Linked DNA regions of Homo sapiens. The protein of the gene in region 4 interacts with the protein of the main gene of each other region in a pairwise test. Each region holds a gene or a part of one and is shown on either strand. Other genes may lie near its edges.

The links.
Region 1: the proteins of HSF2BP (region 4) and HCK interact in binary tests that used the Homo sapiens proteins (3 or more experiments, as listed by UniProt).
Region 2: the proteins of HSF2BP (region 4) and GOLGA1 interact in binary tests that used the Homo sapiens proteins (3 or more experiments, as listed by UniProt).
Region 3: the proteins of HSF2BP (region 4) and CCSER1 interact in binary tests that used the Homo sapiens proteins (3 or more experiments, as listed by UniProt).

The regions. Positions count from the first base shown.
Region 1 is NC_000020.11:32,054,768-32,063,074, reverse strand, and holds part of HCK (tyrosine-protein kinase HCK), read right to left. Parts: intron 1-8,307. UniProt on the Homo sapiens protein: Non-receptor tyrosine-protein kinase found in hematopoietic cells that transmits signals from cell surface receptors and plays an important role in the regulation of innate immune responses, including neutrophil, monocyte, macrophage and mast cell functions, phagocytosis, cell survival and proliferation, cell adhesion and migration.
Region 2 is NC_000009.12:124,876,798-124,882,413, forward strand, and holds the end of GOLGA1 (golgin subfamily A member 1), read right to left. Parts: intron 5,158-5,616; coding exon 4,987-5,157; intron 4,461-4,986; coding exon 4,374-4,460; intron 3,814-4,373; coding exon 3,733-3,813; 3' UTR 1,478-3,732; downstream 1-1,477. UniProt on the Homo sapiens protein: Involved in vesicular trafficking at the Golgi apparatus level. Involved in endosome-to-Golgi trafficking. Mechanistically, captures transport vesicles arriving from endosomes via the protein TBC1D23.
Region 3 is NC_000004.12:91,592,824-91,601,130, reverse strand, and holds part of CCSER1 (serine-rich coiled-coil domain-containing protein 1), read right to left. Parts: intron 2,560-8,307; coding exon 2,074-2,559; 3' UTR 1-2,073.
Region 4 is NC_000021.9:43,529,587-43,537,893, forward strand, and holds part of HSF2BP (heat shock factor 2-binding protein), read right to left. Parts: intron 377-8,307; coding exon 168-376; 3' UTR 1-167. UniProt on the Homo sapiens protein: Meiotic recombination factor component of recombination bridges involved in meiotic double-strand break repair.

The DNA.
Region 1 (8,307 bases), on a different chromosome or scaffold from region 4:
ACTCAGCTCTCCTGCCTGTCATCATCCACTGAGGTCAGCCCCAGAGGCTGTGGGCGATGAAGGGGAAGGGGAGAATGAGGAACCCAAACAGAACTCTCAAGAAGGCAGACCGCTGGGGGCCCAGGGCTTAAGGCTGTTCAGTTACAGGAACTTTCCCTTCTCAGAACAGCTCAGCAATGGGGGTGGGGAAAAAGTATTTCCTCAACAGGAGCCAATTCCCTGAGCAGTGCCTTGGGGGTGCAGAGCCCAGCAGCTCCCTCTCCTCGGGTTCCCTGACTGTCTTCTGAATGAACTGTCTTTATCCCCGAGTGACTACTGTCCCTAATAGACAGTTAGGGGTCACTCCTGACTTCTCACGTCTTCCCTTTACTGAGCCTCAGCTTCTTTCTCATAGAGCTCAAAACTTTGATTTTGCAAACAGGAGGAAACTTGGGAGATCAAAATCTTCATTGGACAGGTGGAGTAACAACCCCAAGAGGCTGCGTGGGCCCTGGCTCACACGATGGCGAGCGACAGAGCAACACACTAAAGGAGAACTCAGGGCTTTGATCATTTGCCTGGCTGAGCCATAGGGCTGGCTCTGAGATGCCTGTGTTCCAAACACTTATTCAACCACATATAAAACTCATAGCATGTTCAATGTTACTCTTGGGACACTTGGTCAATTTCAGAATTCCAGAGCAACTGTGAACCTTCTTGGAATGATTTTATCTCTAAGGCAGGCAGGAGGCAGGGCAGTTTGAAAATAGAGCATGAGATTTGAAGTCAGATAGAGCTGGGTTTGAATCTGCATTCTGCCTCTTACAAATAAGTGAGCCTTTAAAAATGTAAGTCATCCTGGGCATGGTGGCTCACACCTGTAATCCCAGCACTTTGGGAGGCTGAAGCGGGCAGATCACCTGAGGTCAGGAGTTGGAGACCAGCCTGACCAACATGGTGAAACCCCATCTCTACTAAAAATACAAAAATTAGGCGGGCATGGTGGCGCATGCCTGTAATCCCAGCTACTTAGGAGGCTGAGGCAGGAGAATCGCTTGAACCCCAGAGTCAGAGGTTGCAGGGAGCCGAGGTCGCACCACTGCAGTCCAGCCTGGGCAACAGAGTGAGAGTCCGTCTCAAAAAAAAAAAAAAAAAAAAAGGTAAGTCAGATCGCATTCCTTCTCTGCTCAACCCCCACCCAGGGTTTCCGTCTCACTTGGAGTAAAAGCCCAAGTCCTCTCCAAGGTGGGTAAGACCTCCACAATCTGATCCCCTCCTCAGCCTCTCAGATCTGTCTCCTTCTAACTCTCCCTTGATCATTCCACTGGAGCCCTCCTTGCTCTTCTTCAACTCACCAACTGTGCTTATACCTCTGGGGCATTGCATGTTCTGTTTCTGGAATATTCTTCACCCAGAAAGGCTCCATCACTTCCTTCAGTCTCTCTAATGATTGTACCTTCTCAGAGCAACCTTCCCTCATCACCCTGGCAAAGACAGGATCCTCTGCCCCCCAACTCCCATCACTGTCTAGCCTGTTCCCAGCTAGTCTTCATGCCCCTAACCACCTCTTAAACGTGGTGGCCATGAGGATGCACCTCTCAGATCTCCAACTGCAGGAGTACGACTGGAGAAATTGATCAGCGGCTCAGCTGCTGTGCTCTGAAGTCCATCACTGCTCTCATGGGCTGCTCCCAGCCAATGACTGAGTGTGGCAGGGAGACCGAAGCCCACCCATGTCTGGGGGACCTCTGTCAAGAGACTTTGGCCAAGGGCTCCTTAACAGCCTTGACAAACTTTCCTTAGAATGGCACGGCAGCTGGGCGCAGTGGCTCACGCCTGTAATCCCAGCACTTTGGGAGGCCAAGGCGGGCGAATCACAAGGTCAGGAGTTCAAGACCAGCCTGGCCAACATGGTGAAACCCCGTCTCTACTAAAAATACAAAAATTAGCTGGGCGTGGTGGCGCATGCTTGTAATCCTAGCTACTCAGGAGGCTGAGGAAGGAGAATTGCTTGAACCCGGGAGGCGGAGGTTGCAGTGAGCCAAGACTGCGCCACTGCACTCCAGCCTGGGCAACAGAGCAAGACTCTGTCTCAAAAAAAACAAAATAAAACAGAACAACAACTACAAAAAAAAAATACGGCATGGCAGTCCAAGACACGTCCTCCTTTTATTCCTTTCTTCTTCCTTCCTTTCTTCCTTCCTTTTCTTTTTCATTAGTGGACAGAGGTACCCCACTATCTGATGGCTCTCCTGTCCTCTCCTGGTTTCTTCCCATTTTCTCTCATAGCCATTTCCTCCAATAAATTTCTTGCACATTTAATGCTATGGGAGTCTGCTTCTCAAAGGACTTGAACTATCTCAGGGTATGCTGAAGTTAAGTATGAAAAAGAAAAGAAAAAATAAAAAAGGACCTGGACTAATGCACCTAATGTATTACCTGTTGATTTGTTTATTATCCATCTGACCAATAGGATATGAGATATGACAGTAAGGTCCCCATTTAGTCTGCTGGATGCCCCCAGATTTCCCGTCTAAACAATAGCTATAAATAGGCCAGGTGCAATGGCTCATGCCTGCAATCCCAGCACTTTGGGAAGCTGAGGCAGGCGGATCACCTGAGGTCAGCAGGCGGATCACCTGATGTCAGGAGTTTGAGACAAGCCTGGCCAACATGGTGAAACCCTGTCTCAACCAAAAATACAAAAATTAGCTGGGCGTGGTAGTGGGTGCCTGTAATCCCAGCTACTTGGGAGGCTAAGGCAGGAGAATTGCTTGAACTCAAGAGGCAGAGGTTGCAGTGAGCCAAGATTGCCCCACTGCACTCCAGCCTGGGCAACAGAGTGAGATCCTGTCTCAAAACAAAAACAAACAAACAAAAAGAAAACCAATAGCTATAAATATATGTTTAAACTGAGAAGGGTGATGCACATTTGCTCGCTTCTGCTGGGAGAGGAGCAGTCTTTCCTTGGCTGCCGCTGAGTGGAAGTTTCCCCCTCCAGACAGGACATGGTGGCCAGTTCACCACCAGGGCCACTTTTCACTTTAACCTGCCGTGGTACTGAGAGATCAGCTGCCCCCAAACCTGTCCTCCACAAATGGAATCCTCAAAGCCTCAGTAACACAGGCGCTGATCCTTTTACATTTTTTTTATAATTGACAAAGCTCCAGGTCTCAGTTTCTTTTATTTTTTGAAGGGTATGTATTTTATTTTTAAAATGACCTTTTACCACCTAGTAAAACATTAGTGCATCCTTCTTGTTAAAAATTAAACCATTAGAGGCCAGGTATGGTGGCTCACATCTGTAATACCAGCACTTTGAGAGGTCAAGACAGGAGGATCGTTTGAGCCGAGGAATTTAAGACCAGCCTGGGCAACATGGCAAGACCCCATTTCTACCAGAATTTTTTTTTATTAGCTGGGTGTGGTGGCATGTGCCTGTGATCCCAGCTACTCAGGAGGCTGAGGTGGGAGGATCGCTTGAGCGCAGGAGGTTGGGGCTGCATGAGCCATGATAGCATCACTGCACTCCAGCCTGGGAGACAGAGCGAGACCCTGTCTCAAAAAGAAAAAGAAAAAAAAAAGAGAGAGAGAGAGAGAAGCAAGAAAGAAGAAGAAGGAGGAGGAGGAGGAAGGGAAAGAAGAAAGAAAGAAAGAAAGAAAAAAGAAAGAAAGAGAGAGAGAGAAAGAAGAAAGGAAGGAAGAGAAGAAGAAAGTGGAGGAGGAGGAAGAGGAGGAGGAGAAGGGGGGAAGGAAAGAAGGGAAAGAAGAAAGAAAAGAAAAGAAAGGAGGGAGGGAGGGAAGGAAGGAAGGAAGATTAAAACATTACAGATACATTTAAGACACTCTTGGATTACTCATTCTATAAGCCCTCCATGGCCACCTCTTTCCCCACCCAGATATCCTCTGCCAGCATTTGGCCTCAGCCTCTGCCTCTGCATTTACACACATGTATGTTGAAGCAGAGGCTGTCAGTGCCCTGCCTCTATCACTCTGCCCTTTACCATTTCTGCACATTCTGGCTGGACTTCCAGCTGCCGGCACCTTCATCTCTTTGTCTGAGAGATTTCTCTGTGGCTATTGGTGCCTGCTCTGCCCATGGGCTTGGCAAGCCGAAAGTGCTAGAGAATTATCACATCCCCAGGAGTAGTTTTCAACAAAAGACAGGAGCGAGAACAGGGTGGACAAATACCCCGGTTCCCTCACCTCTCAAGCCTGTTCTACCCTGGCTCCCAGAGCTCCTCAGTGGGATTGAGCTCCAGGTGCCCGCAGTGGTAACTGGGCTTAGAAGACACCTTTAATGACTACCTCCTGTTCCCTGCCTCACTTCCTTACTCCCCTAGGAGGGTCTCTGGAATCAGCTCTCAAACTATTTGCATTTGAAACCTTGCCTAGGGTCTGCTTCTGGAGAAACTCAAACTAAGACATATACGCCATGATGGACTAGTGTGTGTATGTGTGTGTGTGTGTGTGTGTGTGTGTGTGTGTGTTTTGACATAAAAGGAATTGTGCTGCAGGAATCATGAGTAGTATCCTCCTCAGTTCTCCCCCTTTTTTTTTTTTTTGACAGAGTCTTGCTGTTGTCAGCCCAGGCTGGAGTGCAGTGGCAAGACCTTGGCTCACTGCAACCGTGCCTCCCGGGTTCCAGCAATTCTCCTGCCTCGGCTTCCCAAGTAGCTGAAATTACAGGCGCCCGCCACCACGCCCGGCTAATTTTTGCATTTTTAGTAGAGACGGGGTTTCACCATGTTGGCCAGGCTGGTCTTGAACTCCTGACCTCAGGTGATCCACCTGCTTTGTCCTCCCAAAGTGCTGGGATTACAGGTGTGAGCCACCGTGCCCAGCCTCAGTTCCATTTTTTTTTTGGATTTGGGAACTGAGGCTCAGAAAGGGAAGAGATTTGCCTAGTGCATCACAACCTGTCTTTGGCAGAGCTGGCACTCAGACTCGGGGTCGTCTACTGTACTGTACCCACTGTTCTTCATTTCTATGGTAGAGATGAGGCTGGGATTCCTGTTCTCTTGGCTGCACTTACATCTCCTGGGCCAAAGGATTTCAGGGTGATGCCTGGAACTCAGGGAGGTGACTCGAAGGGAGAGTCAGGAGCGCACGTCCTAGCGCAGTGCCATCCAGAGGATGCAGCATGTGGGACCACAGCCGGGGCCAAGACCAGGGCACATTTACACTTAAGCACAGGCTGCTTCTGCATCATTACCCACGCCTCTGAAAGTACCTTCAAACTCCCAGTCCTGTGGGGGAGGAAACTGGAGAAATGGGGTGGGGACCAACATGTGGTTGGTGCATGTGGTGGGGTTTGTTTAGAAAGGCAGAAGTGATTGCTTGATGACTTGTGGTATAAAAAAAGAAAAATAAACAACAACAAAAAGATGTAAGAAAGAAAGAGGCTGAGAGAGATTGTGCTACTAACTTGCTGTGTGACTTTGGGAAAGTCAATTACCCTCTCTAGGCTTCACATTCCTTTTCTTTTCTTTTTATGAGACAGGGTCTTGCTCTGTCACCCAGGCTGGAGTACAGTGGTGCAGTCTCAGATCACTGCAACCTTCACCTTCTGTGCTCAGACGATCCTCCCACCTCAGCCTCCTGAGTAGCTGGTACTACAGCCATGTGCCACCACACCCAGCTAATTTTTGTACTTTTTGTAGAGACAGGGTTTTGCCATGTTACCCAGGCTGGTCTCGAACTCCTGAGCTCAGATGATCTGCCTGTCTCGGCCTCCCAAAGTGCTGGGATTACAGGGTGAGCCACCGCACCCAGCCCTTCATGTTCCTTTTCTATAAAAAAGGAAGCCTTGTCATGACCCGAAGGGTGGGGTTTGAAAACTCAAATGACTATAGGGATGTGGAGGGTTCTGCGGATGAGGAAAGTGGGCCTGGCAAGGGCTGTGCAAGCTGGACAGCCCAGGTGTAGCCCCCAGGGCAGCCCCCAGCTCCACTGAGGTTGTCTGAAGAGCACTGGAGTCGTGGGTTCTAGTCTCAGGGCTGCTAACTCTTCTAATGTTTTAGGAGACAGAAATCCAGATTATGTGAGCTCTCCTGAGTTTAAATGTTAGCAACTAATTAAAAATAATCGCTGCGGGTGGAGGGGTGTTCGGGGAGGGCAGCTGAAATATCTCAGGCAAGGGAGGGAGGAGGTTGTCCAACATTCATTGCGTTTGTCCCATCAGTGTTTTTTTGAGGCCCTACTATGTGCCAGGTGCCAGGTGTTAGAAGATACAGTGGTTTATAGGACAAACATGTTTGTGCTCTTGTAGAATTTACTTTCTAGAAGAGTTTAAAGTCCAAGCCCTGGCTAGTCCTTAGAATGTAGACAACTTTCTCCTTACTTTCTGAGGTAAGAGCCCTCAGAGGGCAGCCTGGTTTGAATGAGATTAAGATTCGTGCTTTCTGTACCCATTAGAATGGTAATAATAATACTAATAAAATATAAACATAGTAGGCATTGGCAAGGATGTGAAGCCAATTGAAACCCTTGTATATTACGGTGGGAATGTAAAATGGTGGAAAACAGCATAGCAGTTCCTCAAAAAGTTAAAGATAGAACTACTGTTTTTTTTTTTTCTGAGAAGGAGTCTCGCTCTGTCGCCCAGGCTAGAGTGCAGTGGCTCGATCTCGGCTCACTGCAAGCTCCGCCTCCCGGGTTCATGCCATTCTCCTGCCTCAGCCTCCCGAGTAGCTGGGACTACAGGCGCCCACCACAATGCCCGGCTAATTTTTTTGTATTTTTTTAGTAGAGACGAGGTTTCACCGTGTTAACCGGGATGATCTCCATCTCCTGACCTCGTGATCCGCCCGCCTCAGCCTCCCAGAGTGCTGGGATTACAGGCGTGAGCCACCGCACCCGGCCACAGAGATAGAACTTTTATATGACCCAGTAACTCTACTTCAGGTATATACCCAAAGGAATTGAAAACAGGTGCTCAAACAAATACATGTATGCACATGCATGCTCATAGCAGTATTATTTTCAATGGTCAAAATGTGGAAACAACCTGAATTTCCATCTGTGGATAAATGGGTAAATAAACTGTGGAATATCCATACAATGGAATATTATTTGGCCACAAAGGGAATAAAGTACTAATAGTTGCCACCATGTGGATGAACCTTGGAAAACATTATGTTAAGTGGAAGAAGCTAGACACAGAAAGTCACATAGTATGCTTCTATTTATGTTAAATATCCTGAATAAATTAGTCCGTAGAGGCAAAAAGCAGATTGGTGGTTGCCAGGGGCCGGGGGAATGGGGGGTAATTGCTTAATGGGTACAAAGTTTCCTTTTTCAGGGGTGATGGAAATGTTTAGGAGCTACTGACAGGTAGTGTTTGTACAACATTGTGAATATACCAAATACCACTGAATTGTTCGCTTTAAAAATCATATAGTTAATTTTATAAAGTTATGTGAATTTCACCTCGATTAAAATATTTCTAAAAATTTTGAACTATATAAAAGATTGCTCTGCTAGAAAGGTTAAGCAAATTATAATACAGGCAAACAGTGGAATATTATGCAGCCACTAAAAATTTAAGAACATTTTAATGACCTGGAAAATGCTACAATGTAATACTAAGCAAATAAATAGGATAAAAATAATCTATGTGTAGCATTATACTAATTATGTTAATTTAAAAGTGCATAGAAAAGACTACATAAAGATACATGAAAATATTGGTTATTGTTCCCTCAAAAGGTTCATGCTTCCATTTTCTTGAACACTTATTAAGTGCCAGGCATAGTGAGTAAGGCAAGTGAAGTGCCTTACAGCAGAGAACATGAGGCCTGAAAGAAAGGCCATTGATCCAGAGACGGCTGGGAGATCAGCAGAGCAACATTCTTCTCTCTTCTCTGCCCCAGAGTCCCTGGTGACCCTTCTGGGCTACAGTACTCCTCTCACACAAAGGGGAGTGTGACAGGTGCCCTCTCTGGGGAGCCATCCAGCCTTTTGGTGTTTTCCTCAAGAACCACCTGTACATGGGCCGAAAGCTACACATCCAGGATGCTCCTGTCAATATTGTTCGTTGTAGTGAACGCCTAGGAACAACTTGAGTATTTATCCACAGGGGAAAGAGAAATACTGTAGAGTCGTTACCTGCTGGGATACTCCACAGCAGCTGGAAGGAATGAATGAGGCCTCTATTTTCTATTTCTCATCCTGGGTAGATTTTGACAACTTAATGATAAGATGGGGCAAATATGCTCCTCTGCTATCCCCATTGTCAGAATTGCAGAAAAGTCTCACAATTAGATAGTTTTTTGTTTTGTTTTGTTTTGAGACGGAGTCTCGCTCTGTGGCCCAGGCTAGAGTGCA
Region 2 (5,616 bases), on a different chromosome or scaffold from region 4:
TCCCCCCTGTCTCTGGCAAGCCAGGCTCCCCTTGGCCAGCCAGGTCTCATCTGACACGTTTTCTTTTCCTGCCCCCACAGGCCTTAGCAGTAGGAGGACTAGGCTCCATTATAAGAGTTCTTACAGCAAGAAAGACTGTTTAAAAAAAATAAAAAGACTCATGTTACCTTGAGAAGAATTCTGGATGCCCAGGCTGGTGAAGAAGGGATTGACAATGGACCATCTTCCTAGGAACTCCCAAGTAAACTATTTCAGGACATGTATCTGCTGAAATGTATTTTATTTTCAAGGTGGAGGGGAAAATCGTCTGTTTCCTAAATCCTGTTTAGGATCTGATAGTCTATGCCTTTGTCTCCGAGTACTGCAGAACTGACATTTTGACGGTCTACCAGCGTGGCGGCTGGTGTTGGTCAGATGCACCTGTGTGCACTGGGGGAGGGATGGTTTGGGCAGGTGCAGATCCAAGGGCTGTGGTAAACGGGAGAGCTTGTGTTTTTGAAGTGGAAAAAAACCCAAGAGTTTGTACAGACATCCTGTCTTCCCAGAGAAGGTGGACACTCTTGGGCTCATTGTAAAGTGCCTGCTGCATCAATAAAGCTCTTGGCTTATTAGTCTATACATTGCGGTGTGTTTCGTGTATGTAAAAAAAAATGGTAATGAATGGGATGGTAATGAATGAGAGTTCAGTTGTTGTTCCGGAAACCCGATGTGGAAGGAGTAGACCTGTGTCCCTGTTGAGCCACCCCTGGGAGCGAGCATGGCAATCCACAGGCCCTCTGCCACAGGACGCCAGCCTCGGCCTCAGAGCTGCCGGCTGCTGCAGAGAGGTGTTTGCTGAATAAACTATTTATTGTTTCTTATTCCTTTGATTTGTATGTAATTAATTTTGGAGCTTATTTAATTAATTTAATAAAGTGCCAAACATTTAATAATTGATCTAGGCTTTAAAAGTCTTCAGTTTGTGGGATTGCACTTGGAATCTTTTGAGGGTGGGGCCTCAGATGTGCCTGGTCACGTCTCCTGATGCTGGGTTGGCTGTGCTGCAGAATCACTGCTGCATGGACAAGCTTTCTTTAAAGAACTAAACGTCAGAAATGGGGAGCAATCAATCAGCAAATAGATGGTATAATTTGGTTCCCCATAACCAATAACAGAGCTTCTCTGAAGGGCAAAAATGCTTTTCTTTCCTTTTCAGCACATGTGACTGCAGCTTGCATTCTGTTAAAGGTTAGGGCCCCATTCACACTCCAGAAGCTCCTCTGGGTCATACAGCCTTTGGATACAGACTTTGACCAAAGTGACACAGTCCTCCCCTCCACAGCTCTCCCCTCCTCAGTCCCTCTTCAGAACCACTGCAATTCTTGGGGGGGGTAGAATGGGGCTGTTGGCTTCATTAAATTACGTATATTTATTCACCCAAATCCAGTCTGGGAAGGTTCTTTCTGAAAGAAAGACAAACATTCTCTAGCCCTTGAGGTTGGCCTTGGAGTGTTAAATATGAGACACAAAATACCAGATTTAATGAGTCAAAGAAATACTGACACACCAAACTAGTAAAATCCATTGTAGTTGCATCTGGATTGAAGAGCTTTAATCAAAAAGTGTATTGCACCACAGATGAATTTGCTACAGCAGTTTTCAAGAATACAATCCCTATTTACAACATGGAAGGAGAGCTCAAGATCCATCGCTCGTATAAAGGGCTATAGATACCGTCGCTAACACAGAAAGTTTTATACAAGTCAAAGTGCATTAAATCACTTAGAATATTTATTCCACTCTTCCTCTTAAAGCTGAAGGAAATTCAACATGCAGGAGGAAAGCCTAGTCAGTGAAGCCTCCCTAAAGTGAGTACAGACCTAGGAACGGGCCCCACAGCTACACCTGAAACTGCCGAGGAGTGGGGCCTGGGGTGCGTGTGGGACCAGTTCAATGGCTGGAGAAGCCACGGAGGCAGCGGATGGGCTTCTGTGGAAATGTAGCTGCCTTTGGCTGGCTGTGAGCTACCCAGTCTTAGAGATTCTTTCCTGGAACAGTTGAAAAAGGAAATCCTACTTTGAAAAAAGGCTACCTCTTACCCATCAAACTTGCAGAACAGAAGAGACTCCTGTTTCGTGTTCCCACCAGGTAAATGGAAATTCGTGTTCTAAACAAGGGATAACTGTCTGCAAGGAGGAGCCAGAGGAGGAGGTTAGTCACTGGAGAAGCGGCCTCTGGAAGGCAGAGAGCCTGAGCTGGGACTAAGGAGATGCTGCCCTGACTTGGTTCTTCATGGAAATTTCGTTAGGTTAACGTTGCAAATGCGTGTTTTTCTGTGACACATTTTATATACCTATTTTGGCCCTAAGCATGATTGAGAAATACAACTTTCCATCACTGGATAATGGATAATAAATTTAGAGGCTCCAGTTATTAATTTAGTTTTTTATTTAACCAGTGAAACTTTCATCAAACAATAAACGGTTTCCTTTTAGATTCAATATTGTGGCTTTTCCAGAACCAGCATGTTCCCTTTCCTCAGTAAACGAGGAATCCATAAAACAAGTTTTTGTTGGTTACTACCAGAGTCATGTGCATGCTACAAGTGCTGCAGCCAGCTGGGCGCCGTCTGGGTGTAGTGTCATTTTAAGTATTTGGGGTGGGATGAGGGAGAGAGAGCAGCTCCACAGACAAGGCAGACTGCCCCAGTGTCTCCATCGAGGCTGGGGGACAGCTGCTGCCCCCACTGGAGACAGCGGACTGTCCTTCAGTAGAAGACAGGTGGTCTGCATCGCCCAGCGGCAGCGCAGCACAGAATCAAGACAAAGCACACGAGATCCCACTGCACTTCAGAGGGAGCAGTGCCAGAGTGCGAGTGAGAAGACAAAGGAACAGGAATCCTAGTTTTAGGAAGAATTTCCTCTGGACGCTCTGATTTTAAGAACACCAGTTAAATGGATTTTATAGTACAGAAGACATGTTTATAGTAGTGAAGAACTTCAGCTATAAAAAATAGTTTAAAATGGTTTACCAGCAACCTATCCAAGACAAGTACATTCATTAAAAAGGCAATTGAGTGTATTTGGTACTAAGGGTCTTTTCATATATTTGCTAGTTTTCTTAAGTAAAGTGGAGATACTGTCAGAAAGGTGCATTTTCTCATTCATCCACACCGACCCTTAAAGATGGATCCTCTAAAGTTCTAGGTGGTTTGAGAGACAGGGTGAAAGAATATTTTCTTGAGAGGAAGGGATAAAAAGCTTCTAACTCATCTGAATTTTTAAAAGCCACTCCCATAGAGTTCCCATGGAGTTGGCTGTTCCTGGCAGAGGCAGGTGGGTTTGGCCTGCTGGGCACCATCTCAAAGGGCCGTCTCTACCTCCAGTAGCAGCGCTACATGGTGACTCAGGTGTGCCTGCCAGATGCTGATGGCTTCAGCTGTAAGTGCTACCGTGAAGTTAGAGGATTCAGGTGCAGATGGGGTGCTGGCTGGAGCTGGGATATTAGCAGCACTGTGGAAATCTGGGTAGTGCCAGGACCCTCCTGTTTGGTGACCAGAATGACAGGATCAGCTACCCCCTGAGGTTCAGGTCAGCCTGCAGGGAAGTGGGCCTTAGTCTTGTAAACAATGTTTAGACACTTGTACAAAATACTGCAGTTACAGTGATTAAAAACCCACCCAGACTGGTGTGTCAGTGTTCTTTTCACAGAAAAAGTGTCAACCCACGGAGCTCCATCCTTGGGTAGTCCCCTCTAGGACCATGGTATCCGAGGGTTTGAGATAGACGGCCGGATGCTGCCCTTGGGAGCTGGTTTGGACCCAAACCATGACATCTGCATTTGAAACAGAAAAGGCTTCTGAGATGCAAATCAGGACTTGGTGCCAGGGAAACTGAACCGCCCCTCCCCTCCCGTGAGCCTGTCACTCCTGCCCCCCACACATCCTGCCTCTGGCTCTGAGCAGAGCAAGAAGATGGTGCCAGTAACCAGTCTGCAGGCCCGTGCTCAGTACAGGAGGGAAATGAGAGAAAAACACTGAGTTGACAGGAACAAGGTAGTGGAACTGCAGGTATTTTTTCCTATTAGAGCATTTATGCAGACGCTTTTGGAATTTGAGTGCCGAGCCAGACCTGGGGCTCTCGATAAAGCGCTATCAATGAAAATGCTTTGAAAAATACGTGGCCTGTTGGTCAAGTACAGCACAGACATTTGGGCACAAAGGATGTCATCGCTAAAAAGTGCTTGGATCAAGTTCATCCAAAAGCAGCCAAGCTGATCATGCAGCTGTGCTGGTGCCTACACTCGGGTGTGGGTCTAAGGGGTCTTACACTGCTACTGCTGGGATAACTGACAACGTATCTTGGAAGCTGGAACAGTAGACCAGAGAACCCTACCTTATATTCCAGAGTTTCCTTGAGCATGTTCTCCTCCTCTTGGGAAAAGTTCAGCAACACTGACACAGCTTTTATAAGATGAAAAGCCTGAAACACAGTAAGTTTTGCTGCCATAGGCCTTGGTGAAGGTGAGGCGGGGTGGGGTCGGGGGAGCTACGTGGCATTTCCTGCTTGCTTTGGTTAGCAGGACCAGGTGGTGGGTGACGCTCTGGCACTCTGAAGTTTGGCAGCAATGATAGGTTCTTTCTTCCCCTGCATCCTCGGGGGCCTGGCAGGCTTAAGGGAACTGCCCCAGCAGCTACCCTACCCTTTGGCAGGACCCAGGAGCGATGGGTGGATTCCGTTCCCGGCTTCCGGCCTCTGGCCTCAGCACCCAGGCCAGGATTTAGAAGTGGAGCCTATGTCTCCCACCAGGAGCCAGTTCCTGCACGGCCTCTCCCGCCAGCCGCTCACTCCGCAGGCCAACGCCAGCAGGAGAAATGACTGGGTGACCACAAGGGCGTCAAACCAGGATGTACGAGGAAAAGAGAGAAAGGGGCTGGGCAGGGGTCCCTGCAGGACAGACTGTAGGGCGGGGCCTCAATACCCAAAAGACACCTCAAAAGCCCTTTACCTCGGATTCGCGACAAGACATGAATTTTAAAACCACATGTTTAAGGTACTCAAAGTTGATCTCGCGGGCATCTGTCAGGTCAGTGTTATTCGTGACGGAAGGCGCCATGTTTGCCATCTCAGGTCCAGGTTTCTCCCGGACTTCGAAGAGCTCATTATCGGGTCTGATTTTCTGAAAAACCAGTGGGAAAGATGCTACACCGAACCCTCTGAGACAGGTGGAAAAAATCACACGGGAGGTTCACCTGGTCCAAACTATGATCACTATCGTAGGGCAAAAAGGGCCCCACCTGGGAAGGAAGCACCTCCAGGTAGGCTTGAGGAGGGAGTGACATCGTTTGGGTAAATTCAGACATTCCGTTTTCCATGGCAAGAACACATGTCCCTGGGGCCTGAAGCTGCTCGCATCCCGCATCAGGCCAAGCACTCTGCCACACACACACACTGTTAGAGCATCACTGCGCTGGCGTGGCAGGCAACCCCACTTCCAGATGAGGATGCAGGCTCAGAGAAGGCAGGAACAGGGCTGTAGCCACGGAGCTGCTTCAGAGGTGCATGCAGGCTGGCAGGCTGTCCCACCAGCTAACGTTGGATTGCCCAGCGATCCCTTGCAATTAATTAGGGGGTGGAG
Region 3 (8,307 bases), on a different chromosome or scaffold from region 4:
ACATTATTTGTGATACATAGTTCTTCCATATCCTGGGAAAAAATCCTTGATTATTTTATCATGCTTATTTATGTACAGATTTAAAATACTCTAGCAACAGACACCAACATTTAGGACAAATCAAGCTGAATTCCACAATTAATAATCATGATTTTTCTATTTTCCTATCATTTCTTAAATATTGCCCAGCCCAAAGTGTATATCTGCATGATCATTATAGCTTCCAAAGTATGGTGGGAACTTTAGATGGCAATCTCATTAAGTCAAGCAATTTGCAGTGTATATTGTTCTCTTTTGGCAGAATTACAAACACGCAAAGAAAGAAAACATTTGGCAAATGTCTGCCTTGATGCACATGTGTGTTCCTTTGGAAAACCAAAATTACAAGTACAACATATCCACTCGACTCCTTACTTTATCAGTTCCAATCTAAGTTTGCAAATGTATCAAAGTTCAGTAGTTAAAGCTCAGGGGTGGAGTGTCTAATGGCTTTTCCCCAAAGCACAGGGCACAAATACATTTTTATAATAGGAGATGCATTTTGCACACAGCTTTAATTTAAGCAAGTTGTCAGATGCCATGCTAAAACTGCTATCTCAATTTCCCTTTGTTCATCTTGCTTGTGCACGCTGACAGATTCTGTTAGAAAATGCAAGGGAAACAGATCATGCAGTAGGTATGACAGTTTCAATTTGCATGGACTATGGCTAATGTGGATGTACTTAACAGCTCTGATGTGTATAAGAAAACTGCAGCCTTGATTCCTATTAGTCTTTTAAAAATTATTTATTTATGTATTCAATTGTACTCTTTGATTCTGCTCTGCTACTAATTGAACATGATGGAATTATCCATAGATCAATTCATATATTGATCTAAAGTGCACATAAGTATATAACATATTATAACATATTTGGGCCTTATTTGTCAAAGAGAAATATTTGCCATCAAATGGGTTTTAAATATTCCTGTTAGAAGCTTATTTCTAAGATTAAATTGCCAATGTTCACATTTACTTTACTTTTGTTCCAAATCTAGATTTCTGCATAGTCAGAATATTGTATGCTGGCTACTAAAATACTGACTTTCTGTTCTTCAGTTCATAAAATTATAGATATGGGTTGATGTATATAAACCAAAATTGGATTTACATAAAAAAGAACATTTTAAAAAATAAGGAAAGTAAAGAAAAAGAATAATTTTCTTAGGATGTTTCATCCTTGAAATTTTGAAAAAATGTTTATATTGCCATGACAGTGGCTCAAAGAATATAGCATGTCAGTATTTATGCATCATCTGACAAAATTCAACCAACTTTATCACCTTGTGTTATGTCACGGTACTTCAACATCAATAACAAAAACTAAAAGCAAAATTTTTCAAAGATCAGAGCTGTCATTCTCTATTTGGCTAGCAATTACTCTGTCTGAAATCCTTTGTGAACTAGTATGAACTAAACGTTTAAAGGAAAAAAAATACAGCCATTTCCCCCTTACTAGTATCACAAGATGAGCTTGAATGTATGTAATAGAGACAAACACATCTCTAGGTTACATGCAAGCAAGCCACATTCTTCAAATAAATATACCACCAAATATAAGACGTTAACATTTCTCTTTTTTCCTCCTTCTATTAATTATATAATTTAAAATTCTTTATAATTCCTTTATCTATTTTTCATCAGGTCTACTTTTATAGTAACACCATTAACAGTGAACAGATTGCTATTTGATATTATCTTCTGAAACCTTAATGCATATCAGTAAGTGATAGAGATAAAAAATAAATAAATTATGGACTATATAAACGATCATGATGGTCCCATTTATTATACACCTATATAGTAAAGTCTTCAAGGCAATGCAACCTAGTTCAATTAACATGCTCAAACTTTCACTCTTGGAAAAAAAAAACCCACAAGTCTTTGTTTATGACTAAGAAAAAAAACCCAACAACACAACTCTGTTTATAACTAAAATGTAAGAAAAAGTACATGACAATTTTAATATGAACTATGCACGAGAAACACTAACCATCTTTATCCTACCCAAAGACAGGAATACGGTGATTTAATTACCCATCCTGCTGGCCTAGAGTTTGCAGCTCAGTGCTGTGTAAATTGTGGTGGAGAAACACATTCTTCCTGCTGTACATGTGTAAAGAGATTGGCCCTCTGGGTGGCTGTCCAAACCTGCCTGTAAAGGTCGAATGCTGTCGGGCCGTAGCAACTTGGTCCTTTGGTTTCTCTAAGAACGTGGAGAGCCCTTCTGTCTTAGCTGTTGGCTTCAGAGAGCTCTGCCCAACGGTGGCCCGTAAGTTCTGTGTAACGTCTGAAGTGAGGGTTTCATAAGTTCCTCTTGAATGTTTGATAACTTCTGCTAGTTCCTTGTCCTTCAGGAAATTACTTAAACAGAGACTTGGGAGTTGACAGGTCTTGTTTTTGTAGGGGCTTGTCTGGTCCGCTGCCGAATACCTAAAACGGTCCTCGGTGGGAGTATGTATTGCTTTTCTGTCCCTTGTGCTGAGATTTTGGCTCACAATTCGATTTCGATATGTAGCCTATGGTAAGACACAGAAAGAAAAAGATGTCTTAAAAAAACACTTTCATAGCATACATACAATACAGAGTGATATTTATACATTTGTGTCTGAACCCGTAAATTTTCAATGAGGTTTATAAAATTATCAATACAATTAACCATGGGATTAAATTTTCCGGTGCAATACTATTACAGATAGTGATTAAATGGTTAATTTACTCTAAAAGGCATTTTTATATTTGTTCATCTAATTTACTAAATTTGAATTATATAGCTTCACAGAAAATACAGATTATTTTATTAAGTAAAAGGTGATTTATATGATTTGAAGCGATACCAGAGTATGAAAATACAGATTATTTTAATAAGTGATGAATATAGACATATGAGGCCATTAGCTTTTGTTGGCTTAATATGCTATAGTTACTTAAATATATGTCCAGAGAGTTTATAGAATTATCAGTATCATGATTTGTATCACCAAAGTGGTAAGCAAGAAATTAAAGGAACTAAAAACACACAAGTAACTACAAGAATCTAAGAAGACCAATAGACCACTTATTAGAAATTTCAATACATGTTTCATTTAGACTTTTGGATGCAATTTATTAATCAAAATCAGGTCCACAAGTACATACCATCTTCTTGCTCATAAGAATTGTATACTCTAGTAATAACAAGGCATAGCTCATTGAATCATGCTGTGAAGAAGCAAAGATTACAAGCTAGCACCCATATTCCTCCTGAAGAGAGCACTATGTTTGTGTAGAAAAACACATTGAGGTAAAAACTGAGACTGGCTGGCTTAATTGTTCTGCATGCAAAAAATGAAGGATTTATTGTTGCTACAAAGAAAGAGGATAAAAATGAAGAGAAACAGACAAGGGAGAAGAGAGAAGAGCACTATAGATAGCTGCAGGCTCATTTGCTTATTTAGCCATCATCACTTTTTGTTTGATTAATATTACTTATATTAATATTACTAATTTGGCATAATATCAAACCAAACAAAATAAAACTTGATTCTCAACTGTGAAACTCATTCTTCCCCAAGAATTTCCCTTCTCAGTAAATGGCACCACATTCAGGCCAACACCTGAAAATTATTCTTTTCTCTTTTCTTCATACACCTTAAAATCAGGTCCTTGCTATTTACAAAATATAATCTCAAGTCATCCATTTCTCTTCATTTCTACTCTTTCTTCCTGACACAATTGCCTGGCACATATTAACCATTTAATAAATATTTGCTGAATAAAGTTTGAGATAATACATAATATTTATTGGGTGTGTATTTCCAACACTCTGCTATTGCTCTCATATATTCACTCTTCACAAGAGTCTTTTGAGGTAGTTTCTTTTATTCCCGTTATACAGACTGGAAAATTGTAGCACAGAGTTTGATTTTATCCTAAGCTAGTGTAGGACAGGCCGTCTGCTTGATTATCTACCAGTTCCTTCTTCCTCGAGTATTTCCATAGGAATTTTTCAAAACTTCATCACATTTTTCTAAAATTAATTACGTGCAGAAAAACATTGTAATATGAGCTGATGCCTCAAAATGATTATTATTGAAATAAGTCTCCCTCCTTTTCTTTTCTACAAAACAAAGACCCACTAGGCGTCCTTAAACTCAGTGATTTCAGAGGGAAGGATTTTGCTACTCAGGCCTTTCCTTTTTATTGTCTTGATGTCTGTGATGTCATCTTTCCTTTTTATTGTCTTGATGTTTGTGATGTCATCTTTACTTATTTATATTTTTGTGATAAGCTACTTACAGCAGACCCCCCTCTGTGAATTCTAATATGCTGTTTTAACTTTTCCTTAGATTTGGAGTAGACATAGGTAGGTTGGTAATTTGGTGTAGAAAGGAAACATTGTAAGACTCACAAGAGATGCCTCAGACTTTTTAGGAGTAAAAGGAATAAACTATTTTGATTCCATTTTCGTCATTTGGGAACTTGTCTAGCTCACTTTCTTCTTCTTGGCTCTTTCCCAATACTCTAGGCTATGGACCTATTAGAAATGTGATCTTTTCTTTTTCCTCCATCCCTGTAAACTTATATGTTTATTTAATTGTTACCAACCAACCCCCAAATCAACCTTGTGCTCAATATCTGTGGCCAAATGTTAGACATATCATGGGTGCTGCTTATGAAATATTGTGGAAAAAATTGGGGATGAATGCAACATTAATAAGTCCATAATGATAACACCAGTGGTTACATTTCTTTTTCATTTCTATTTCAACAGATGCTGCCTAGGAAAGTAGAAATGGTAGGAGTAGACTTCATTTCCACTATTTTAATATTACCTTTGAGGGAATATTCATTGTTTTCTTTATGTGATCATTTTAATTCTCCTGGCATATTATATTAAATTGAATATACAGTTTTAAAAAGACATATTGAAAAGGATCAAATAATTCAGTCACACAGGCAGCCTCAGCACCCCTTCTCTGGTACAGTATCTGGTACTTAGAAGGCACATGTGGATCTACTATCAAAAGAAGCAAGATGGGGCTTCTTACTCTCAATTTTTAAAGGAAAATACACATTTAAATCAACCATTTATGTTTATTTAGCATAGTTTGTTTTTGACATGTTAGTTTTTTTGCCCTTGGTTTTTTTTTTTTTTTTTTTTTTTTAAGTTCTCTGTGATATTTACTATTATCTCCAAAGCTCATAGTGGACATAGGAGATTGCATTGTGCAGGGGTTAATCATATGGGTAGGGTCAGATATATATGAATTCATTTATTCTTGTGATAAATATTTATTGGCCACACTGAGGACAAGGTGCTGCATACATCATGTGAAATAGGGCTGTTCATATAAGACCCAAATGCTACCTTAAGTCAGCTTCAAGTCAGACACTTTCTAGTTTAGTGAACATGGCAAGTTACCTAAGCTTCCTAAGCTGCCAATTTCCTCATCTGAGAAATGAAGTTTTATATTTATATCCATATCTTCATAAAGGATTATTACAAATATTTAATGACCTCCTTGATTATAAAATGCCTAATTACCTGGAATGTAGTTACCTTAATCACAACAATAATCATCATCATCACAGTAACAATATAATGTAACTAACAGACCTTGAAACTACTTTGAGAGGTATTTATTTCATCTTTTAGAACCTAATCACTTGGAACACTTTTATCTCTATTTTAAAAAGAAAGTCACTTTCTCTAGAAAATTCAAGTAATTTTATATTTATTGTTGTAGTTTGGTTCCACAGAACACAGACTGTGAGACAGATGTTTGTGAAATGTATTGGGGAGTGTTCTTAGGCCAACAACTATAGAGAATGAAGAAAGCAGAGTCAGGCAGAGTGAGAAATTAAATTCTGTGCAATTACACTATCTCGACTGATCACATAGGGAGGTCTGAATTTGGGATGGTTCTTAATAGTGGTCTCCAATTCAGGCAAGTCGGTGGGAGTCTTATATCCCATCATCCAGTTATTGGACATTGGCAGGCCCTGGGAAGGGCTATAGTATTGGATGAGTAGGTTTTTTTGGTTTTGCTTTTTTTTTTTAAGCAGAGAAATTATTGGAGAGAAATTTACTTGAGAGCTATCAGTTGCCAACACTCTCAGCAACAGGAAAAATTAAGACTTCAGTCTTGAAAGTGTATTTGTTTGAGGCAGAGAAAGGGAAAAGTAGGAGGCATATCATACCATACACTACACTAATTACCCTATTGTGTCTTTAGTATATTATAGGACAATTTGAGCTAATAGAAAGAACACTGAACCTGAAGCCAAAAGACTCTAGTTGTGCTACCATTGAACTGTGTAACATGGAATGAATAAATTAATTATTCTGGGCTTCAGTTTCTAAGTCCACTCACTGAATGAAATGAATAAAATGTAAGACAATAGAATTTAGATCTTGAAGAAACTCTAACAATCATTCAGTTGCTTTCCAATTCTAAAATTCTAGGTTTATTTTATGCTACATGTTTTGGAATATGTTTAGAAGTACATAGGAAACATCCTCTTAACACAAAATATTAAAATACATTTTGGCATATGCATTTGGATCGGAAGGATGGGAATCTAAGATAGATAGATATAGATAGATCTGATTTGGGTATATATATATGTATATATATGTATATATGTGTGTATATATATGTATATATGTGTGTATATGTATATATGTATATATATGTGTATATATGTGTATATATGTATATATGTGTGTATATATATGTGTATATATATGTGTATATATATGTATATATATGTGTGTACATATATGTATATATACACATATACATATACATATATACACACATATATATATATATGGATTTGGTTGCCTTGGCCCAGAGGAAAATAATTTCCATATTATGATGTTAACCAATGTTTATTACCTCTGAAGAATTTGAGATCCCTGAAGGTAATTTTAATGCATGTGTCTAGCCACATCTTTCTCAAAATCAGAATTAAGCCTCCTGAAACTCATGTAATTATGTCAGATTCTGCGCAATTTAGTTGTCATGCAGCTAGCTTATTACCTATCCATAGAATTCCTAATGAGGATGAAAGGATGGAAAATCTAGTGATTAATCAGTCGACTGTGCACATTATAATAAGTTCATTGTTACCTTTTAATTGTCTTCCTCTCATTTCTTTACAATAGCATATAGCCTGTATTTCATCAAATGCAAGAAAATACTAATTTTAAAACATATTATTATTTAATACACCACTAAGAAATGAAAAACAAAACACCTGATGCTGATTTAAAACAAATAAACCACATTCACTTATTTCAGCCTGTGTGATCCATTAGTAAGTCACACCAGCCTCTCATTGCAATTTATTTTGTGTTCAGTTGCCTTGTTTGGCATTTGACAGACAGTCCTTTTGCATTTTTCTCAATGATTCAGTGTCATCCACACATAGGTATATTCCCTCTCTAGATTTTATAAAGCATTGGGTTTTTACTTAAGAAAAAAGCATGGGGGCTGGGCGCTGTGGCTCACGCCTGTAATCCCAGCACTTTGGGAGGCCGAGGTGGGCGGATCACGAGGTCAAGAGATCAAGACCATCCTGGCCAACATGGTGAAACCCTGTCTGTACTAAAAAAAAAAAAAAAAAAAAAAAAAAGCACGGGGTTGAAAACAAGACAGTTAAAAATATTTATTTCATTAATATTAAAATTATACCCTGTTTTTTTCCTTGGCTTTCTGTATACAAAATTATTTTTCTTATAACATCAAGTACAGTAAGCTGTTAGAAAACATTCTTTAGTAACAAATGTAGCACCAACATTGCATATAACTCAATTAAAGAAAGGCAAATATGAAGCTATGATACAATACACATTGCACGGGCAATTTAAACTGCATTACAACTGCAACCTGGTTAAAAGCATTGATTGTAAAATGAAACCTGATATTTAGGGATTCTATTATATTAAAAACTTGTCTCTTGGTGAAAAACAGAAATACAATAATCATGCCAATGTGCAAAGCCAAAATTTGTTAAGGCTGGATGATGTGATGATAGAATTTATGGGGGAGGGGAGAAATACTTCAATCACTGATTAATGAACGTTTAATAATGTTTTATTTTTTCTGAAGTTCTTTTCCTTGTTTTGTAAAAATTATTGGTAGTTGCCATGAATGTTATCAGGCAAAATTATTCTGTTATAATTGCTTGCATACATAAGAACTCTGCACATGATTATTTTCATTGACTTTAAAATATATTTTTCCTGCAAATGTTCTCCACTTAACAAAAAAAAAATA
Region 4 (8,307 bases):
CAAGACAAAGTTATGTGGGATACATATCAATTCATGTCCATCTCTAGTCAATCACATTTTGCCAACTCTAACACATGGTACATGGTGATGGTTTTGGAGTATCAAATGAGGGATCTGGGGAGAAGGGACACCGGCATTTTCACCAAAACCCTGGTGGCCGAGCACACCTACACATTATGCTCCAGAGTGCGGAGATCTTCCAGGAGCTCCTGGGCTGCGGTTTGCAGGCGGGGGTTGCGGCTCTTGGACATTGCCAGGATGCGTTGCAGGGGCAGGGAGCTCCGGAACTCAGAGGCCGACTTGGAGAAGACTTCAGGTTCCAGAACCACAGACTGGACAAGCCTCAGTACATGAAGGCACACCTCTGCATCTGGATCTAGGGAAAAGAGGTAATGCTTCTGGTTAGAATAAAATTTTCTTTTTTCTTTTTGTTTTATTTTTTTGAGACAGAGTCTCGCTCTGTCACCCAGGCTGGAGTGCGGTGGCATGATCTCTGCTCACTGCAACCTCCGCCTCCCAGGCTCAAGAGACTCTCCTGCCTCAGCTTTCCTCTGTAACTGAGGCAGGAGTTTCCCAAGTAACTGAGATAACAGGTGTGTGCCACCATGCCTCGCTAATTTTTTGTATTTTTAGTAGAGATGGAGTTTCATCATATTGGTCAGGTTGGTCTCGAACTCCTAACCTCAAGTGATCCACCCACCTTGGCCTCCCAAAGTGCTGGGATTACAGGCGTGAGCCACCGCGCCTGGCCTAGAATAAAATGTTCTACTGCAATCTACCCCTCAAGGGGTTCCTGGCCTTTCTGAATAACACGTTTGACAGTTTAGAAAACTACAGGATAACCCAGAAACACAGTCACTGCTTGATATAAAAGCTTAGCTCATAAAAGCAGCATCAAAAAACTCAATAGTCTAATAACCATCATCTTCAAATATTACAGTCATACAATTTTAAAGTGTTAAACTAGAAAGATGAGGGCTTTCTCTGTTTGCTAGTGAGGACTAAACTCTGATTTTTTTTATCTTGCCCAAATTCCTATCTAAGGGGTCTGGGGAGTCATGTCCTACAAATCACAAATTCTCATCAGATGGGTTTTATTTAACCCTATATATCATGACTTTCCAACCTGACTCTGGCATAACATTATGAGACAAGAAAGAAAATAAAAATACTTTACCCCAAAATATGTTTCTTTGCCATATTTTGAAATGGCCCTGCAAAGCTGTTCTTTGTGGGGGAAAATCTGCATTTGTAAAGAATCTCTACTAACATAGCTAGATCTTTTTCTTCGAGACCCTCCTAATCCTAAAGAGATTAACTAAGATCTGAATAGGAAACATCTGTCATCTATTGTCTCTAAGGCAGCCACCATAAGACTTCAAAAGAACTTGGATGTCCACAATCTTTACCTTAACCTGAACATTCCCTTTCTATCAATCCCAGGTCTTTATCAATCAGAAAATGTTTAAATTCACCTATAGCCTGGAAGCCCCACGCCCCCCAGCTTTGTCCCACTTTTCTGGACCAAACCAATGTATTTCTTAAATGTTTTTGATTGATGTCTCACACCTCTCTAAAATGTATAAAGCCAAGCCGCACCCAACTACCTTGGGCACATGTTCTCAGGACCTCACTCATATTTGGCTCAGAACAAATCTCTTCAAATATTTTGCAGAGTTTGACTCTTTGTCGACAGTAGCATTCTGTCCACTTATAAGATTGTTTTAAAAAGTATTACTTCTTTTTCACTCCAATTGCAGCAAATCCCTCAGGGACCACATACAGATACAGCACTTATCAGGGCCACTGAGTTTACACAATGTCACTGGGTATATAAAATTCACGTTGTTTATTTTCCATGGGAATGGCCCCAGGACTTATAGAATCTGGTAGCCTTGCATACATTGTAGCAACCACTAAAAAATAGCTAGACAAACCCACTGGAAGCTTCAATCCATCACCAGAGTGGAGCCAACTTTCCTTACCATTCCTCTCTACTGGCAGCCTTTACGATGCCGTAAATTCACTCCTTGACTGGGTACTGCAACTGGAACCAGGCTCAAAATCAGCACCTCTTTCTTAGCACATTTACTTAACAAATAAAAAAATTAAAAAAAAACCTTTTAAGATGTAGACTGAAAGAGCAGACTGAACAGTCTCTCAGTGGGAGCTGCCACAGCACTAAGCCCTAACAAGAAGCTTCTCACCTACAGAATCAGAAGACTGCTGTGGCCAGGGAAGATAAAAGGCAATCTGCTCTAGCCCTCAGGGAGGGTCCAGGAGCCATCTTAAGCCAGCCTGTTAGAGTCCTCCTACTTTGGGGGAAGGGAGGGGAACTTTCTCTAGTAGAGACCTGCCAAAGATAAGGGGCAGCTAAGGCAGACACAGAGGCAAGGCCAAAAGCCATGGGTGAAGACGCTTTGGCAACTCAGCCCTCATCCTAAGCTCAAGGAAAGGTTAGAGGAATTTGAAGCCAGTGGGATGGAAGGTACATACACAACAACAAAACCCAGACCCACCTTAACTCCCCAACAATGAAAACCCAGCGGAAAAAGAGGAGTGGCCATTCCTGAATATAACACTATCTACCCACCTCATTCCCCTCTACAGAGAGGGTACGCATGGCCCAGAGGCCAAAGGTAGCCCATGACCCGTTTCTGTACAGCCTGCAAGCTAAGAATGGTTTTACTTTTTTTTTCTTCTTCTTCTTCTTCTTTCCTCCTCCTCCTCCTCCTCCTCCCCCCCCCTCCTCTCCTCCTCCACCACCTCCTCCTCCCCCCCCCCTCCTCCTCCTCCTTTTGGAGACAGGGTCTTGCTCTGTCTCCCAGGCTGGAGTACTCTGGTACAATCATGGCTCACTGCAGTCTCAATCTCCTGGGCTCAAGCCATCCTCCCACCTCGGCCTCCCAAGAAAGAGGGACCACAGAACATGTGGCCACGCCCAGTTAATTTTTCACATTTTTTTGTAGAGACGGTGTCTCACCACACTGCCCAGGCTGGTATCAAACCCCTGGGCTCAAGCAATCCTTCCACCTCAGTCTCCCAAAGGGCCAGAATTAGAGGCATGAACCATTGCAGCCTGCCAGGTTTTACATTTTTTAAGGGTAATTTTTTAAAAGTAAAAACCAGAAGAATAACATGCAACAGGGACTACACGTGGCTCTCAAAACTCAAAATATTTATTTGGCCCATTACAGAAAAAGTTTTTTGACCTTGCCTACTGCCCTCCACACAATGTCCAACACTGAAATCAAAAATTACAATGAAGAGGCAATGGAGGCCAGGCGCAGTGGCTCACACCTGTAATCCCAGCACTTTGGGAGGCCAAGGCGGGCGGATCACGAGGTCAGGAGTTTGAGAACAGCCTGGCCAACATAGTGAAACCCCATCTCTACTAAAAATATAACAATTAGCTGGGTGTGGTGGCGCACGCCTGTAATCCCAGGTACTCAGGAGGCTGAGGCAGGAGAATCCCTTGAACCCAGGAAGCAGAGGTTGCAGTGAGCTGAGATTGCGCCACTGCACTCCAGCCTGGGCAACAAAGTGAGACTCTGTCTCAAAAACAAACAAACAAACAAACAAACAAACAAACAAAAGAAGGCAAAGGAAACAAAAGGCTCATTGTCAAGTGACAATCAACAGAAGCAGACACACAGATAACCTGGAATAATAATACAGGAATTTCAGAAAAAGAATCTGAAATAAATATGATCAATAGATGGGAAAACACTGTTTTAAGGTACTTACACTATACCTGAAGCAGCGGATTATTATTTAAAGGTAAACAGTCATGCAATGTATAACATTTCAGAGAGCTTCATTGTCAAATTCTATCAAAAAATTAGAACAGAAATAATAGAAATTTTAAACAAGTCTTCCAGAAAACAGAAAAGGAGGAAATAAGTCAACTTTTTTTTATGAGGCCAGAATTACACTGACACCAAAACTAGATAAAGATGTTAAAATAAAAGAACAGACCAATATCCCTCATAAACAAAGACACGAAAATCCTAAACAAAAAAATAGCAAATTGCATTCAGCAATATATAAAAAGGATAATACTTCACAGCCAATAGACACTTATTCTAGGAATGGAAGGCTGGCTCATTATTTGCAAATCAGTCAACATCACCTACCGTAACAACAGACTAAAGAAGAAAAAAAAAATTATCTCTTCAATAAATGCAGAAAAGCCTTTTGACAAAATTCAACATCTGTTCATAACAGTAATAATAATAATAAACCCTCAACAAAACAGGAATAAAAAGGAACATCCTGAACCAGATTAGGGGCATCTACAAAAAACACACAGCTAACATCATACTTAATGATAGAAGACTGAATGCTTCTTTCCTAAGATGACGTACAAGGCAAGAATATCCTATCACCCCTATTCAAAATCATACTAGAGATCCTAGCCTGTGCAGTAAGGCAAGAAAAAGAAATAAAAGGTTTATTGATTAGAAAGGCAGAAATGAAACTGTCTCTATTTGCAGATGATATGATTGTCTATACAGAAAATCCCAAAGAAACTAGAAAAAAAGTTATTAGAACTAATTGAGTTTAGCAAAGTCACAGAATACAAATTCAACATACAAAGGTCAATTGTATCCACATACTTATAACAAAAAATTAAAAATCTAATGTTTTTTAAAAATTACCATATATTATATAATAGCACCAAAACATGAAACACTTAAGTATAAATCTCATGAAACTATGTGCAAGATTTCTATGCTGAAAACAACAAAACACAGATATAAGGATCCACAGACATATAGATGGAGAGAATATGCCATATTTATGGACTAGAAGACTCAATATTGTTAAAATGTCAAATCTCCTCAAATTCATCTATATAATCAATGCAATGCCAACCAAAATCCAAGTTGAAATTTTAGCAGAAATCAACAAGTAATTCTCAAATTTATTTGGAAAAACAAAGGAACTAGACCAGACAAAACAATTTAGAGAAAGAGAAATGTTGGGGAATTGCAGTACTAGATTTCAACATTTATGGCCATAAAGAGTGTGGTACTGGTCAAGTGACAGAGCGACAGACAAAGAGATAAGTGAAATAAAATTAGAGGATCCAAAAACAGACCACAGCTTTGTGAACTCTCAACAAAGGTATACATTCAATTCAATCAAGAAAGAATAACCTTTACAACAAATGGTGCTGGAAAAATTGAACATCCATATGCAAAAACAAAGAACTTCAATCTATACCTTGCCTAACATACAAAAATTATACAAAAATTAATAACATACCTAAATGTAAAACCCCAAATTTTAAAACTTCTGGAAGAAAACAGGAGAAAAATCTTTGTGACCTTGAATTAGGTAACAATTTCCTAGACACAAAACCAAAAGCATAATCCATACAACTAAATAATTTATTAGCCACACCAAAATTTTAAAAATCTGCTCTTCAAAAGACAGTCACAATGAAAAGACAAGCCACTAGATGAGGACAAAACATTTGCAAAACACGTATCTGATAAAGGACCTAAATCCAGAATACACATACATCTCTGAAAACTCAGTAACACAACAGCCCAATAAAAATAGGGAAAGTGTTTGAAAAGACACTTCACCAAAGGAGATACACAAATGGCAAGCACACAAAAAGATGCTCAGCATCATGGCTATTAGAAAAATGGAAATTAAATCCATACCTATTAGAATGGCTAAAATTAAAAAATAAAAATCTGAAAATACCAAGTGTTGACAAGAATGAGGAACAACTGGAATGTTCATAGATTAGTGGTGAAAATTTAAAATGGTACTGCCAGGCCAGGCGCAGTGGCTTACGCCTGTAATCCCAACACTTTGGGAGGCTGAGGCAGGCAGATCACCTGAGGTCAGGAACTTGAGACCAGCCTGGCCTCCATGGTGAAACCCCATCTCTACTAAAAATACAAAAATTAGCTGGGTGTGGTGGTGCACGCCTGTAATCCTAGCTACTTGGGAGGCTGAGGCAGGAGAATCACTTGAACCCACGAGGTGGAGGTTGCAGTGAGCCGAGATCGTGCCACTGCACTCCAGCCTGGGCAATAGAGCGAGACTCTGTCTCAAAAATAAATAAAATAAATAAAATAAAATAAAATAAAATAAAATAATAAAATAAAATAAAATAAAATAAAATAAAATAAAATAAAATAAAATAATAAAATAAAATAAAATAAAATAAAATAAAATAAATAAAATGGTACAACCACCTGAGACAACAATTTGGCAATTTCCTATACATTTAAACACATACTTACCACATAACTCAGCATATGAGTTATATGCTGAGATAGTTTTATGTCACAACTCATACAATTGTCTACTAACAAGTGAATTTTGTTCTATGTAAATTATAACTCAACAAATCTGGCTTTATATTAAAAATAAGAAGAAGGCCAGGCTTGGTGGCTCACGCCTGTAATCCCAGCACTTTGTGAGGCCAAGGTAGGTGGATCACCTAAGGTCAGGAGTTCGAGACCAGCCTGAAAAACATGGTGAAACCCTGTCTCTACTAAAAATACAAAAATTAGCCAGGTGTCATGGCAGGCACCTGTAATCCCAGCTACCTGGGAGGCTGAGGCAGGAGAATCACTTGAACCCCAGAGGCAGAGGTTGCAGTGAGCTGAAATCACGCCATTGCACTCCAACCTGGGCGACAGAGTTAAGACTGCATCTCAAAACTAAAAAAAAATAAAAATAATAATAAGAAATTAGATCCCTGGACCCTCTCCCCTATTCCCTGCCTCTGGAAAAATGCCCTTCCCTAGTAGAGACTGGACATTTCTTTTCTTTTCTTTTTTTTTGTGAGACAGAGTCTCACTCTGTCACCCAGGCTGGAGTGTAGTGACGTAATCTCAGCTCACCGCAACCTCCGCCTCCCAGTTCAAGTGATTGTCCTGCCTCAGCATCCTGAGTAGCTGGGATCACAGGCACCTGCCACCACACCCAGCTAATTTTTATATTTTTAGTAGAGACGGGGTTTCATCATGTTGGCCAGTCTGGTTTCGAACTCCTGACCTCAGGTGATCCGCCCACCTCAGCCTCCCAAAGTGCTGGGATTAGAGGTGTGAACCACCCCACCTGGCCTGGACATTTATTTTCTAAAGAATCTCTGGAGGTGAAACATCAGGCACAATTGAGGATGGAGGTTCTGTCTGGAAAACATGTGGATTAGATAAACACATACCTACAAGCTCTAAGACATTCCCTCTATCTCTACTTTGTTTCCGGAGTTTATAGGCCTTCATCCCTCCAGAAATAAGGGTGGGTGAGTCTTCTCCAGACAATCTGAACAACCCAAGACAACACAGTCGAAGATACTGACCTATGGGTTCCCAATTAATTGATGCACCAGCTCACACTGCAGAAAAGTTCAGAAGCTCCACCCATATGCTCACAGCTTCCAATCGGCATTATAAATCCCACTGTTAAACATGACCAGACAACCACACATCACCAGACACCTGAGAAAAAGATAAATGGCTATCATTTTAAACAGGAACAAAAGGAGGACAAAGAAAAGAGATTGTGCAGTGAGAAGAAAAGTTTTAAAAAACTATTATTAATATCTTCCTCAAGGAGGTAAAAGAAGCTATATCATCTGTTAAACAAGAATGGGATGCTATTTTTTAAGACAATTAAAAATAAACAGCAGTCTTAGAAATTAAATGCCTGAGAGTAGAGATGAAAACTTCAATAGGAAGTATGAAAAAAGAAGTTGAGAGTACAGATGTCCCCTCTTATCTGTTGCTAAAACTTTCTGTGGTAGTGCCGGCATGTGTCAAATACAATCAAACTTGTTCCTGTCAGGTGCTTTCTGACAGTGGCAAAGCTCTCAGGGCACACACTGAGCATTCCCTCCTCCTATGGGCTTCCTGGCCACCTCCAAAGCACATATGGATTCTGGACCATGTCAGCCACATCTTAGGCAATGCCCCAGGCTCCTTGAGCACCTAGGAACATGGAGTCATCGAGCAGCAACATAAGCCCATTCTTACAAGCTTCAAAGAACAAGAAGGCAAAAAAAAAAAAAAAATCTTCCTTGACCCCAAACTGGCCTCCAGTTCTGCCCAGTTCTTGACTCCCTTCCCAGGAATATTACAAGAGTGGTCTGTTGTTGCTACCGCCCCACCTCACCTTCACCCTTCAGTCACGCTACCATCTGCTCACTGCTGAGACAGCTTCTCTCAAGGTCACCAATGTCCTCCATGTTGTCACTGCTCAGCTTTCGTCTCACTTGACTCCTCTGGCTTTTCTTGGCTTCCATAGCACTCCTTCACCAGTCCCTCCTTATAC